Regions from separate parts of the Homo sapiens genome. Here regions 2, 3 and 4 are each reported to be linked to region 1. Evidence: microRNA targets listed by miRTarBase, many of them from high-throughput screens and not tested one by one. Region 1 holds a microRNA gene; each other region holds the end of a gene's coding sequence.
The links. The annotated mature microRNA hsa-miR-379-5p reads UGGUAGACUAUGGAACGUAGG and lies in region 1 at 1,970-1,990, shown strand. An mRNA with a match to its seed (bases 2 to 7 or 8) in the 3' UTR can be bound and repressed. Matches are read on the target gene's strand: a 7mer-m8 pairs with bases 2 to 8, a 7mer-A1 pairs with bases 2 to 7 and ends in A, and an 8mer does both.

Region 1 (3,081 bases):
TCCAGTCCACACCCCGTCCAGTCCACACCCTGTCCAGTACACACCCCATCCAGTCCACACCCCATCCAGACCACACCCCATCCAGTACACACCCCATCCAGTACACACCCCTTCTAGTCTACACTCCATCCAGACCACACCCCATTCAGTCCACGTTGCATCCAGTCCACACCCCATCCAGACCACACCTCACCCAGACCACACCCCATCCAGTCCACACCCCATCCAGTCCACACCCCATCCAGACCACACTGTATCCAGTCCACGCCCCATACAGACCATACCCCATCCAGACCACACCTCACCCAGACCATCCACGCCCCATCCAGACCATACCCCATCCAGACCACACCTCACCCAGACCACACCCCATCCAGTCACACTGCATCCAGTCCACACCCCATCCAGACCACTACTCCATCCAGACCACACCCCATGTAGTTCACACTCCCCCAAGTCAACACCCCATCCAGTCCATGTTCCATCCAGTTCATGCCCCACACAGACCACGCTCCATCCAATCCACGCCCCACCTCGACCACTACTCCATCCAGTTCATACTGCATCCAGTCCATACTCCATCCAGTCCACTGTCCACCCCGACCATGTTCATCTGACCCATGCTCCATCCAGTCCATGCTCCATCTGGTCCTCTGCTTTTACCCTACAGTGTCCACTCTTGTCCTCTCTCTTCTTGGCTTAGTCCCCTCATCCTTTATCTTCTAATCTAAACTTCTGAGAAGTTTTCCTGATTGGCGAGAGCCTCTTGTTAAATGCTCTCTGCTCCTTCACAACACTTTGGCCTCCTCACATTTTGAAACCAATTCTCTGCAATAACTACTTTAATGTTGGTTTTCCCCACAACGCTAGCAGCTGCAGGAAGGCAGAGACTGTGTCTTATTTACTGGTCTAGCTCCAGCACCTCACAGATGTTCAGTAAACACAAGTTTATTTCTACGAGTGACCACATGGAAAATGTGAGTGGGCTGGAGGAGAGGTGCAGGCAGGGTGCTGTGGAGGGTCAGGGATGCAAAGGCCTGAGTTGGCTGAGGTGGGGTCGGGCTCGTGGAAGAACTGCCATTTGGTTGGGCTTCAGAGAGATGTAAGCAGACACGGGGTCTGGGTGGAGGAGTAGTGCCAGCAAAGGCATGTGGACAATGCACGGGGTATGGAGGGTAATCTCTTAGACTAGACTAGCTCACACTTGGAGGGAGCAGGGGAGCATGATGCCTTGAATGACTTCCTAAGGAGTTAGGACTTCAACAACTGAGTTGCAGGGCCCCGTCTACACTGGGGTTCAGGACTTTAGAGGACAACCGAGCTGTCCTGCAGGGCTGCTGAGGGTTCTGCCCTTGTCCTTTCCCTGGAGGCTAACAAATCATTGCTTTGCATTCCATTCACATGGGATAGTTGTGCCATGAAAGGGGATGGAGAAAATCAAGGAAGACCTCCTGAAGGAGGTGGAGAGGTTAATCAGGAGCTGGAGGAACGCACTGCCCACTCAGCTCTGTGGTTTGAGTCTCCAAAGGTGGTCTAGAGCATGGCGAGGACCATCGGAACTTGGGTGAGCTAGGGAAGTTTTTACCTAGAGGTTGAGGGTCCCCTTTTATATGATGAACTGTGCTCTTGGAGTGTCCCATTTGCCATGCAGAACAAAACACTGCCCTTTATCTTGATGAAGAGATAGTTGACCACATAATGGCCAAAGCATGGTCAGTATTGTACATTTTGCCTTGTCGCAGTCTTTCCAAGTTGACATGGCCTTCCTGGAGGAATTACCACTTAGGGTAGAGGCACCCCTTCCCCCATCAATGCCACTGCCCCACATTGGAGGAGGGGTTGTTTATGTTCACCATGTGCCTGCTTCCAATGCCAAATCCAGCCTCAGAAAGCTTTCTGGAAGTGACGCCAACTTCAGGGGCAAGGCCCTGGTTCTGGGGTCAGCACCATTCCGTGGTTCCTGAAGAGATGGTAGACTATGGAACGTAGGCGTTATGATTTCTGACCTATGTAACATGGTCCACTAACTCTCAGTATCCAATCCATCCTCGGAGGGCTTCCTGGAGGTGTTGCCAACTTCAGGGAAGAGAACACGTGGTTTAGCTTCAGCACTGCTCCACGGCAATTTCTGTGGCTCATGGTTGATGTCTGACTTGTGCAACAAGGCCTGGCTCTTCTGGGCACTAAATGCACTCTCTGGGGAGTTTTCTGGAAGTGATGCAACTTGGGCTCAAGACACCGGTTCCAGCCTCAGCCGTGGTTCTGGAAGAGATGATTTGCCATGTGGCCTGTGCGAAAGGAGGGATTTGTGTGAGATGGGCTACCACTTCCCAGTAGCCTGCCAGCTTTGGAGGGCTTCGTGGAGCCAATACTACCTTCAGGGGGACCCACCAGTCCATCCTTCATTCCGCTGTGTGGCATTGAAGAGTTGCTTTCCTGTGTTGAAGTTTTCTGTTTATACCAATGTCCACCTCTGATCAATCTTACATTCAGTCTCAGGGTTTTCCGGAGGCAGTGCCAAGTCTGGGAATGAGACAGTGGTTCTGTCCTTAGGGAGGTGGTTGACCAAAACAACTCCTGCTTTGTTCATGAAGATGGCATGGTGGTTACTGCTCAGAATCTAATCCAACCTAAGAGGACCTCCTGGAAATGCCCTTGGTATTGAGGCAGATATGGCCTTAGGGCACTTTTTTTTTTTTTTTAATGCCCAAGACTAGAGCTCACTAATAGGTAAGATCTGGGCCTCAGGTGCCCAGTACTGTTTCCTTGGCCTGGTTAGTGTAACTAGATGGATGTTCTTTGGTTGCACGTGGGCCATTTTGTATTTCTGATTTTCTCCCCACTCCCCTAACCAGCTCTGTTAGCCATGTGCCATGTCCTCCCTCCCATCTACCCACTCCTTCAGACCCAGCACAGTGCGCCTGGCACACAGCAGGCACTTAATCAGTATTTATGGAGTGATGAAATCCATATCATCGTCCACTTCTTCTCAGTGGGACTTTCGGCCTCGAAGGGCTTCCTGGAGGAGTTGCCAGTTTTGGGGATGAGCCACTGCTTCGAGCATTCATGTCAACCCCCGAC
Region 2 (3,081 bases), not on the chromosome of region 1:
GCAACCTTCACCTCTCAGGTTCAAGTAATTCTCCTGCCTCAGCCTCCCAAGTAGCTGGGATTACAAGTGCCTGCCACTTTGCCTAATTTTTTTTTTTTTTTTTTTTTTTTGGTGTATTTAGTAGAGATGGGGTTTCACCATGTTGGCCAGACTGGTCTTGAACTCCTGACCTCGAGATCTGCCCACCTTGGCCTCCCAAAGTGCTGGGATTACAGGCATAAGCCACCATGCCTGGCCAACTTTTACATCTTTATTAACTAATGCACTTAGAATACAGCCGGGCAGCAGTGGGTGAACAAAAATACTTGCAGAATGAGTGGGTATCATTTGCCTTTTTTCCATTATGCATCCTCAAACTCCAAAGCTTGGCTGCACATCTGAACCAACTGCACATATCACCACAAACAACATATAGCAAAGGTGGCAGGGGGTGGAGAGGACTGGAAAAAAAACTGGCTTACATATTTGACAGAGAAAATTCTCAACATTTGTGGCATGCTGGGGCTACAGAGTGGGAGGTCTTTGTCTCTGTTCATACTTATGACACGAACTCAATCGTGTCCCACTCCCAGCCCCCAGTAGCAAACCCTGGCAGTATCACAAGCTCCATGACCAGCTGTACCCTTGAATTTAACACAAACACCAGGAAAGGTTAAGGAATTTTCTTTATTTTTTACAAATTAAGACTATGCAGATTTCATATATTTCTGAATCAAAAACACCTTTGTCTTCACAGTATGAGTTAGAATGCAGCCTGAGCTGAAAATCAAGAAACTAGAAAAGAAAGTGGTAGAGATAACTATATTAAAAATCTGTTAGGTATTTTCTTTAAAAGTAGGTGTTTTTTTTTTTTTCTTTCTTTTTTTTTTTTAATATCTTGTCATTCTTGGCACTGTTTCTAAAGAAAAACTCCATTATCCCAAGCAAAAAGCACAGAAGGTGGAGTTTGGCTTCAAGAGATGTTAACTCAAAATCTTAGGCCTAGCAGAGAATCACCAAATTTATGGAGAGTTAACAGGGGTTTAACAGGAAGGAAGTGCCTTTAGTAAGTTCTCAAGCCAGAGGCTGGAGGCAGCAGCTAAATCAGAGGACAGCATCCTCAGTGAAAGTGAGCCATTCGGGGTGGCATGTCACTCCAGGAATAAACACAACTTAGAAACAAATGATTTCGTAGGATAGCACAGTGACATGGTGCACTGTGAACCTGAGGCCACTGTGTCAAACTGTGCACTGGTTGTGAATAGGGAGAGCCAAAAATTATGTCCTACTGGTAATGAGCTTTCAATGGCTCGATCCTCTCACACTGAAGCTCTGTAGAGCAGCTCAGAGCCACAACCACTCCCAACATTGACCCTTCTGGGGGTAGCTGTCTGTGGCAGCCCACAGGAAGGAGCTGGAGATCCCCATTAGGACTGTCCACCCACACTTGAAGCCACAAAACTGCAGGGATTGGGGCTCTCACTGGTTTGGTCGCCTAACTCCCGCCTAAAAGGCCACAAATTTCTGGAAAACAGGTAACAGACCAAAAACTAAAGTGCATCAGTAAAATGAACATTTATCTACTGCCCCGAATCTCTGGCTTGACACTACCTACTGGTGTCCAGTTGGAGACAGACTAAAATGCACTGAAGGACTATTAGGATTGCTGCCTCCTAAGTTATCACAGCCTCGCTCTGTTGATGTGAATGAGGAACTGCTTGGTTGTTAAAGGAGATTTTGCTCCCTGCTGCCCCAAACAGGTCCTTATCTAGGTTTGCTCCCCACTGCCCCAAACAGGTCTGGCAGGATTGGTTACAATGATCTCCAGAGGCTCAACCATTCCCCTTCCCTATCCTTGCTTGGGACATTTAATCACAGCCACCTAGTAGAGGCCGCTCAGTAAGGGGATAACAAACTAAAAAAACAAAAACAGGGCAAGTTTAGGGGAACCCTACGATGCTGTACCTTGATACACATAATCAGCCTTTTCAAAAATGCCTGACAAGAATTAGTCTTTCCTTTGTGCTGAAGTCTTCCCACCCATGGATGGAAGCAGGCTGACTCCCTGAGGGTCAGGCAAGGGGTGGGAAAGGGAACACATTACTTTTGTGAAGGCAAAGCAGAAAGGTGTGTTTGCCAGACCAGCATGGGCAGCTCAGAGGGAGCAAAGCATCCACCAGAAGAGGCTCTCCATTTTCTTTGTAGGGCCTGACAGTTGAGATTTGAGGCTGAGTTAACAATGGGACCACTGAACTTCTTTCCAATGGAAAACTCACGGCCCAGTCCCACAGGAACTGTGCGCATACCAAACAACAATGAGGAAGGAAGGGCCGGGTGGCTCTACCAAACAGTTCAGGTCCACTGGGTGAATGAAGCCTGGTGGGAAAGCGGACTCCTGAAGTTGGCGCCCTCTGCTGGTCCCACTTCTCATCGTGGCGGGTCGACTGCCTGAGTAGAGGAAGAGGCTACAGATGGGGTTGACAAAAAAGGGAGTGAGGGGAACCCCAGGAAGATGAAGCCAAACTCCAAACTATATTCTGCTAATCAGTTTTTTGATCAAAAAATTCAAAATAGAGGAAACCACAAAGTACAAAAGCTTTTCTGATGCTTTTCATTATCACAGAACACACCACCTGTAATGTGTGCAAAAAGGAAATGAGGGGTGGAAGGAGAGGAAGTCTAATTGGGAAAGGCTGGATGGTCACTTCATTTCTTCTCTTTCTTCTTATCCTAGAAATGGAGAAAAATCACCCAATTAATTTTTTGACATTTGACATTCAAGCTAAAACTCTTGAGTGAGCATTTAGTTAGGGACTAGAAGTGAGCCAGACAATTAAAAAGAAATGAGAAATGCTTCCTTAGCTCAGCAAGAACTGAATCTTAACCACATCCTACTGGTGGTTCCCAAAGTTGCCGACAGACCGACCAAGAATAAAGGTTAAGCAGCTGTCCCCACCCCCACCCCAGGAGTGCCGAGGTGGGCTGCCTGACCACTCTAGGCTATTCACAGCCACTACAGCTCAGATCCCAACAGTGAAGGCTGCAGATGGCACTCTATCCTCAAAGAGTGAAACTAGAGGCCAAGACCACCAACCAACCATT
Region 3 (3,081 bases), not on the chromosome of region 1:
CAGCTTATCAGGTACAAGCAGTATTTCCTCCCTAGAGCATCTTTGGAGATTAACTTTTCTCATTCAGTCTTTCCAGAGTAGGGAGGTTAATTGAAGGCTTGGTTCCTAGTCAGGTCATTGAGTACCAAGAGGTCCATTTTTCTTTTGAGCCTCGCTGGCATTGCCTGCTAGAATAGGGCAGTGTCTAACTTTCTCCTTCTTATTTATCTTCAATAGAAGCTGCTTCCATGTCTGGTGATGATAACCTTGAAGATGACTACTTACTCTGAAGTCTGGGCTTCAGTTTGCTCAGCCATCTGCTTTGCTGTGTGAGTGCAGCTATCATCTATCTGTAGCAACAGGAAAGTAATGAGGGCGACAGTGGGGCACTTGCTTTGATTCCCTCTTTCCCATGCCCTGTCTTAATATACTTCTCTGCAGCTGCTTTCCTGCAGCTTAACTTGCTCTCAGATTGAGCACTTTCAAGCTTTTTGTGTATTTCTGTCTTTGGCAGGATTTGGCATAGGAATTGGTGCATGGAGGAGAGGAGTGTATGATAAAGGATCCATGCAGTCCTTCCTTTATTACACATATAGTCTGGCTTGCTGTGGACCAAATTAATATTCTCCTCCCATCAGACTACAAAAAAATTGGACTACCACGCTACAAGTGTGTCTCCCCCATTCCACCTCCGGATCCCTCCCCAACCCTCCAGTGTTTGAATACTGCTGTGTTACTTCCAGGCCGTTCAACGTCAGGCTCAGTCCCCTCTACCAGTCATGATTCACATTACTACTAGGCTGTATCCTTTTTGAGGCTGGGAAACAGTCAGGCTTTCGTCATTGGAAGTGATTCTGCAGACTTCTGACTCACCTTATCAGGTGACTCTGGTTAAGGAAAGCTTTTGAGTGGTGAACTCAAAGACTCCAGTTGAATCAGGAGGCAAAGGCAAAAATTAGCATAATTATATTTAAAAGCCTCAGGAAGTGGGAAGAGAATACTGCCTCCCAGCCTCAATTGCTGATATGTTATTGGAGACAGGCTTTTGAAACTGCTCCAGCTATTTCTCTGTAACCTTTAGTTAAAATATAAGTAGAAAGGAGACAGGAGGCTCAGGAAATTTTCTAAATTGCTAGTATAATATCTATATGTATACACACATATACACCCGTGGAGAGAGAGGAAGAGTATACAGTCCTGTTTGAATCATTTGGAGGATTTTTTTGCTGAATAAAGTTCTCAAGAAAATTTTCTAAAACCAAATTCTGATTGAATCACAAGGTGGAAGCAGGCTGTGAGCCTAAATCTGGTGAAAACTGCCAACTGCCTCACAGAAAGGATCACATCTATGAAACAAGTGTCCCTCCCATATACACATTCATATTCTTTCTCTAAAGTCACTTCAGAAATAACCATTCACTGGCTGGGCACGGTAGCTCACACCTGTAATCCCAGCGCTTTGGGAGGCTAAGGCAGGCAGATTACTTGAGGCCAACATGGTGAAACCCTGTCTCTACTAAAAATACAAAAAATTAGCCAGGCATGGTGGCATGCACCTGTTGTCCCAGCTGCGTGGGAGGCTGAGGCAGGAGAATTGCTTGAACCTGGGAGGTGGAGGTTGCAGTGAGCTGAGATCATGCCACTGCACTCCAGCCTGGGTGACAGAGAGAGACTCTGTCTCAAAAAAATACAAAAATACAAAATACAAAAATTAGCTGGGCGTGGTGGCAGGCACCTGTAATCCCAGCTATTTGGGAGGCTGAGGCACAAGAATCACTTGAACCTGGGAAGCGGAGGTTGCAGTGAACCCAGATTGCACCACCACACAACCTTGTCTCATAAAAAAAAATTCACTAGGAACCAGAACCAATTTAGGTTTAGGCTGTGTGAGTAAGACCCCACCTATACTATTCAAAAGAAAAGGCCCAGATTAAGATTCTAGAAACCTGGATTCTAGGAGCAGCTCTGGTAAGTAGCTCATGTAGTCTTGGAGGAATCTTTAAGGAGTAGATCTCCACTGTAAACTTTTTGCAAAATTTTAACGTGTTTCCTTATAGCATCTTTCTGACAGTACTGTGAGGCTCAAATGCGAGGCTTGAAGTACTTGAGGTGCTTGAAAGTAAATATAAATGTATAGTAATGTGGATGGTAGAAAAATGGCAAGTGAATTTTTTTTAAGGATAAAGCAAGATAAACTAGAAAATTTAAAACTAGCACATAAGGATGCCTTACACAGGTCTTTTTTTTAAATTTAGGGATTAGTAACGTCTACCTCTATACTACATGGCAACTATATTTTCTCACAACCACAATTCTCAAAATTTATTTTCTCAGAAAAATCTCAGTATTAGCCAGGCACCGGTGGCTCACACCTATAATCCCAACACTTTGGGAGGCCGAGGCGGGCAGATTGCTTGAGCTCAGGAGTTCGAGACCAGCCTGGCACCATGCTGAAACCCGTAAATACAAAAAAATTAGCCAGGCATGGTGGTGTGTGCCTGTGGTCCTAGCTACTTGAGAGGCTGAGGTGGGAGGATCGCTTGAGCCCAGGGAAGCAGAGGGTGCAGTGAGTGAGCCAAGATTGCACCACTCCACTCCAGCCTGTGTGACACAGCAAGATGCTGTCTCCAAAAAAAGAAAAGAAAAATCTCAGTCCCAATTAGCAGAAAGGCTCTAGTGAAGGAACAGTTCTGGTGAGTAGTTCAGGTACTCTTGGAGGAATCTTTAAGGAGCTTCCATTTATTTGATGTTTCAGATGTTGCCTGCAATGAACTCGCTGAAGCATGCTCAGCCCTGGAACTGGTGCTACCAGAGTTCCGTAGGGAACCTTTACTCTTTAGAGGTTCCCTGATATAAATCATTCATAAGACTTCCTACCCTGGAAAATGAGTAATGTCTCATTCTTACCTGCAGTTTGTTACTATGTATAAAAGTCTTTTTCTTTAATATGCCTTTAAGTCTTACCTGTTTACAGCCCATTCTGATGGGTTCTTTGTCATTCTGTTAGTATAACCCAGTACTTTTCCTGCTGCCTGGAATGCCCTCTTCTATGTTACCTATTCTGTCCGTTGAGATCCCCCAACTTGGGCCAAAGCCAAGAGA
Region 4 (3,081 bases), not on the chromosome of region 1:
GGCAGGCAGGGAACCCTGGCCAGCAGCCCCCTGTCCCTGCCCCTCCTTCTAGCCGGAGTGACGGGGATCCTGGCCACAGAGCTGTTTGACCAGATGGCCAGGCCTGCTGCCTGCATGGTCTGCGGGGCGCTCATGTGGATCATGCTCATCCTGGTCGGCCTGGGATTTCCCTTTATCATGGTAGGCCCGCCCCTCCCGCTGGGGGCCCTGCCTTAGGCTGTGTCCCTGTCATCCTGAGAACCCCAGGGGGAGGCTTCCATCCAGGGAGACTGAGACTGAAAGGGAGGGGTCTTAGGGGAGCAAAGAGGGGGGCAAATGCCTCCTCACGACCTGTCATGGGCCTTCTGTTTAGGGGTTGATGGAGACACACCAGGTCTTGGGGTCTTTTTTAATCCGCAGGAGGCCTTGTCCCACTTCCTCTATGTCCCTTTCCTTGGTGTCTGTGTCTGTGGGGCCATCTACACTGGCCTGTTCCTTCCTGAGACCAAAGGCAAGACCTTCCAAGAGATCTCCAAGGAATTACACAGACTCAACTTCCCCAGGCGGGCCCAGGGCCCCACGTGGAGGAGCCTGGAGGTTATCCAGTCAACAGAACTCTAGTCCCAAAGGGGTGGCCAGAGCCAAAGCCAGCTACTGTCCTGTCCTCTGCTTCCTGCCAGGGCCCTGGTCCTCACTCCCTCCTGCATTCCTCATTTAAGGAGTGTTTATTGAGCACCCTTTGTGTGCAGACATGGCTCCAGGTGCTTAGCAATCAATGGTGAGCGTGGTATTCCAGGCTAAAGGTAATTAACTGACAGAAAATCAGTAACAACATAATTACAGGCTGGTTGTGGCAGCTCATGACTGTAATCCCAGCACTTTGGGAGGCCAAGGTGGGAGGATCAATTGAGGCCAGAGTTTGAAACCAGCCTAGGTAACATAGTGAGACCCCCTATCTCTACAAAAAATTTTAAACATTAGCTGGGCATGGTGGTATGTGCTAACAGCTCTAGCTACTCAGGAGGCTGAGGCAGCAGGATCACTTGAGTCCAAGAGTTCAAGGTAGCAGTAAGCTACAATCACACCACTGCATGCCAGACTGGGTGACAGAGGGAGACTTCATCTCTTTAAAACATAATAATAATAATTACAGACTCAGGAAATGCAGTGAAAGAAAAATACAGGTTGGCCAGGTGAGGTGGCTGATGCCTGTAATCCCAGCACTTTGGGAGGCCAAGATGGGAAGATTGCTTTGAGACCAGAAGTTTGAGACCAGCCTGGGCCACATAGTAAGATCCTGTTTCTACCAAAAAAAAAAAAAAAAAAAATTAGCTGGGTGTGGTGGTACATGCCTGTGGTCCCAGCTACTCAGGAGGCTGAAATGGGAGGATCACTTGAGCCTGGGAGGTCGAGGCTGCAGTGAGTCCTAATTGAGCCACTGCACTCCAGCCTGGACAACAGAAAGAGACCATGTTTCAAAAAAAATAAATACAGGTTGTAGTGGGTATGGGTATGCATACCAGGAGGCCCGACCTCGTCTGAGAGGGGAGTGGTCAGAAAAGAATTTTCTGAGGAATTGATGTTTTTAATCAACTTTATTGAGGTATAATTTATACATAACCAACTGCATCCATTTTAAGTATATATTTGGCGAGTTTTGAGTTCTAAGTATAGTTTTGGTGAGTGTATACACTTGGGAAACACCACCGTGATCAAGATGGAACCTTTACCCTACCCCAAGGCACCCACATGCCCATTTGCTATCAGTAACCCACCCCAGTCCCAGACCTGGGGAACCACTGACCTGCTTTCTGCCTCAATTGGTCAGATTTGCCTTTTTTCAGAATCTGAAGTCATTCCGTACTGTATGTACACATTTGTGTCTGGCTTGGCTCCAGATAAAGTTTTTGGGATTCATGAATGTTGTTGCACGTATTAGGAGAGACTCCTTTGTATTGCTGAGTAGTATTCCCCTCTGTGGTTAGACCATGATTTATTTATCCATCTACCTGTTGGTGAACATTTTGGCTGTTTCTAATTCTTGGCCATCATGAATAAAACTGCTGTGAATGTTCCTACAATAATAATTGTCTAAACATATGTTTTTATTTCTTTTGTGTCTTAGTCCGTCGGGCTGCTATAACTAAGAACCACAGCCTGGGTGGCTTATAAACAACAGAAATTTATTTTTCATGGTTCTGGAGGCTGGGAAGTCCAAGATCAAGGTGCCAGTGGATTCAGTGTCTGTTGAGGGCCCATGTCTTGATTCATAGATGGCGGTCTTCTTGCTGTGTTCTCCTAGACATGGCAGAAGGGGCAAGGGAGCTCTCTGGGGTCTCTTTTATAAGGGCACCAATCCCATTCATGCAGGCTCTGCCCTCATGACCTAATCACCTCCGAGGAGGCCCAAAGGCCCTACCTCCAAGTACCATCATATGAGGGATTAGGTTTCAAGGTATGAACCTGGGGAGGACATAAACAGTCAGTCTAGCTTTTTGGGTAAATGAATTGCTGGGCTTAATAATAAATGTATATTTAACTGTATAAAAATTGTTTTCCAAAGTGGTTGATTATATTGTTTCACATTCTCATTAATAATGTATGAGTTCTGGATACTCCAGATCCTCATCAGCACTTGGTATTGTCAGTCTCTTCAATTTAGCCATTCTAGTGAGTGTGTAGTGGTATCTTGTCATTTAATTGTGGTATTTCCCTAATGACTAATAATGTTTGACATCTTTTCATGTGCTCAGTATGGCCATTTGTGGGTTTTCTTTTATGAATAATTTGTTCAAATATTTTGTCTACTTTTTTTTGTTGTTGTTGTTGAGACAGGGTTCTCTGTCGCCCAGGCTGGAGGGCAGTGGAATGAACTCAGCTCATTGCAACCTCTGCCTCCTGGACTCAAGCGATCCTCCCACCTCAGCCCCCCAAGTAGGTGGGACCACAGGCGTGAGCCACCATGCCCTGCTAATTTTTGTATTTTTGGTAGAGATGGGATTTTGCCATGTTGGCCAGGCAAGTTTCAAACTCCTGACATCAAGTGATCCACCCACCTTGGCTTCCCAAAGTGCTGGGATTACAGGCATGAGCCACCGCACC

Region 2: the mRNA of TMBIM6 is a reported target of hsa-miR-379-5p. Seed matches in the 3' UTR shown: 7mer-A1 at 788-794.
Region 3: miRTarBase lists TDRKH as a target of hsa-miR-379-5p. Seed matches in the 3' UTR shown: 7mer-A1 at 749-755.
Region 4: miRTarBase lists SLC2A11 as a target of hsa-miR-379-5p. Seed matches in the 3' UTR shown: 7mer-A1 at 1,282-1,288.

The regions. Positions count from the first base shown.
Region 1 is chr14:101,020,102-101,023,182 of GRCh38, forward strand. MIR379 (microRNA 379) reads left to right here and starts at 1,965; the gene lies at 1,965-2,031. It overlaps LOC124903407 (mucin-2-like), which reads left to right. Exons shown (of 5, transcript XM_047432049.1): 5 at 1-3,081. The coding sequence ends at 703.
Region 2 is chr12:49,762,501-49,765,581 of GRCh38, reverse strand. TMBIM6 (transmembrane BAX inhibitor motif containing 6) reads right to left here. Exons shown (of 10, transcript NM_003217.3): 10 at 648-2,709. The coding sequence ends at 2,686. Among named protein-coding and RNA genes, the nearest start is that of TMBIM6, 22 kb to the right of the region's middle.
Region 3 is chr1:151,771,640-151,774,720 of GRCh38, reverse strand. TDRKH (tudor and KH domain containing) reads left to right here. Exons shown (of 13, transcript NM_001083965.2): 12 at 1-11; 13 at 217-1,227. The coding sequence ends at 269. Among named protein-coding and RNA genes, the nearest start is that of OAZ3, 6.5 kb to the right of the region's middle.
Region 4 is chr22:23,884,250-23,887,330 of GRCh38, forward strand. SLC2A11 (solute carrier family 2 member 11) reads left to right here. Exons shown (of 12, transcript NM_001024939.4): 11 at 53-180; 12 at 400-2,063. The coding sequence ends at 600. Among named protein-coding and RNA genes, the nearest start is that of MIF, 8.6 kb to the right of the region's middle.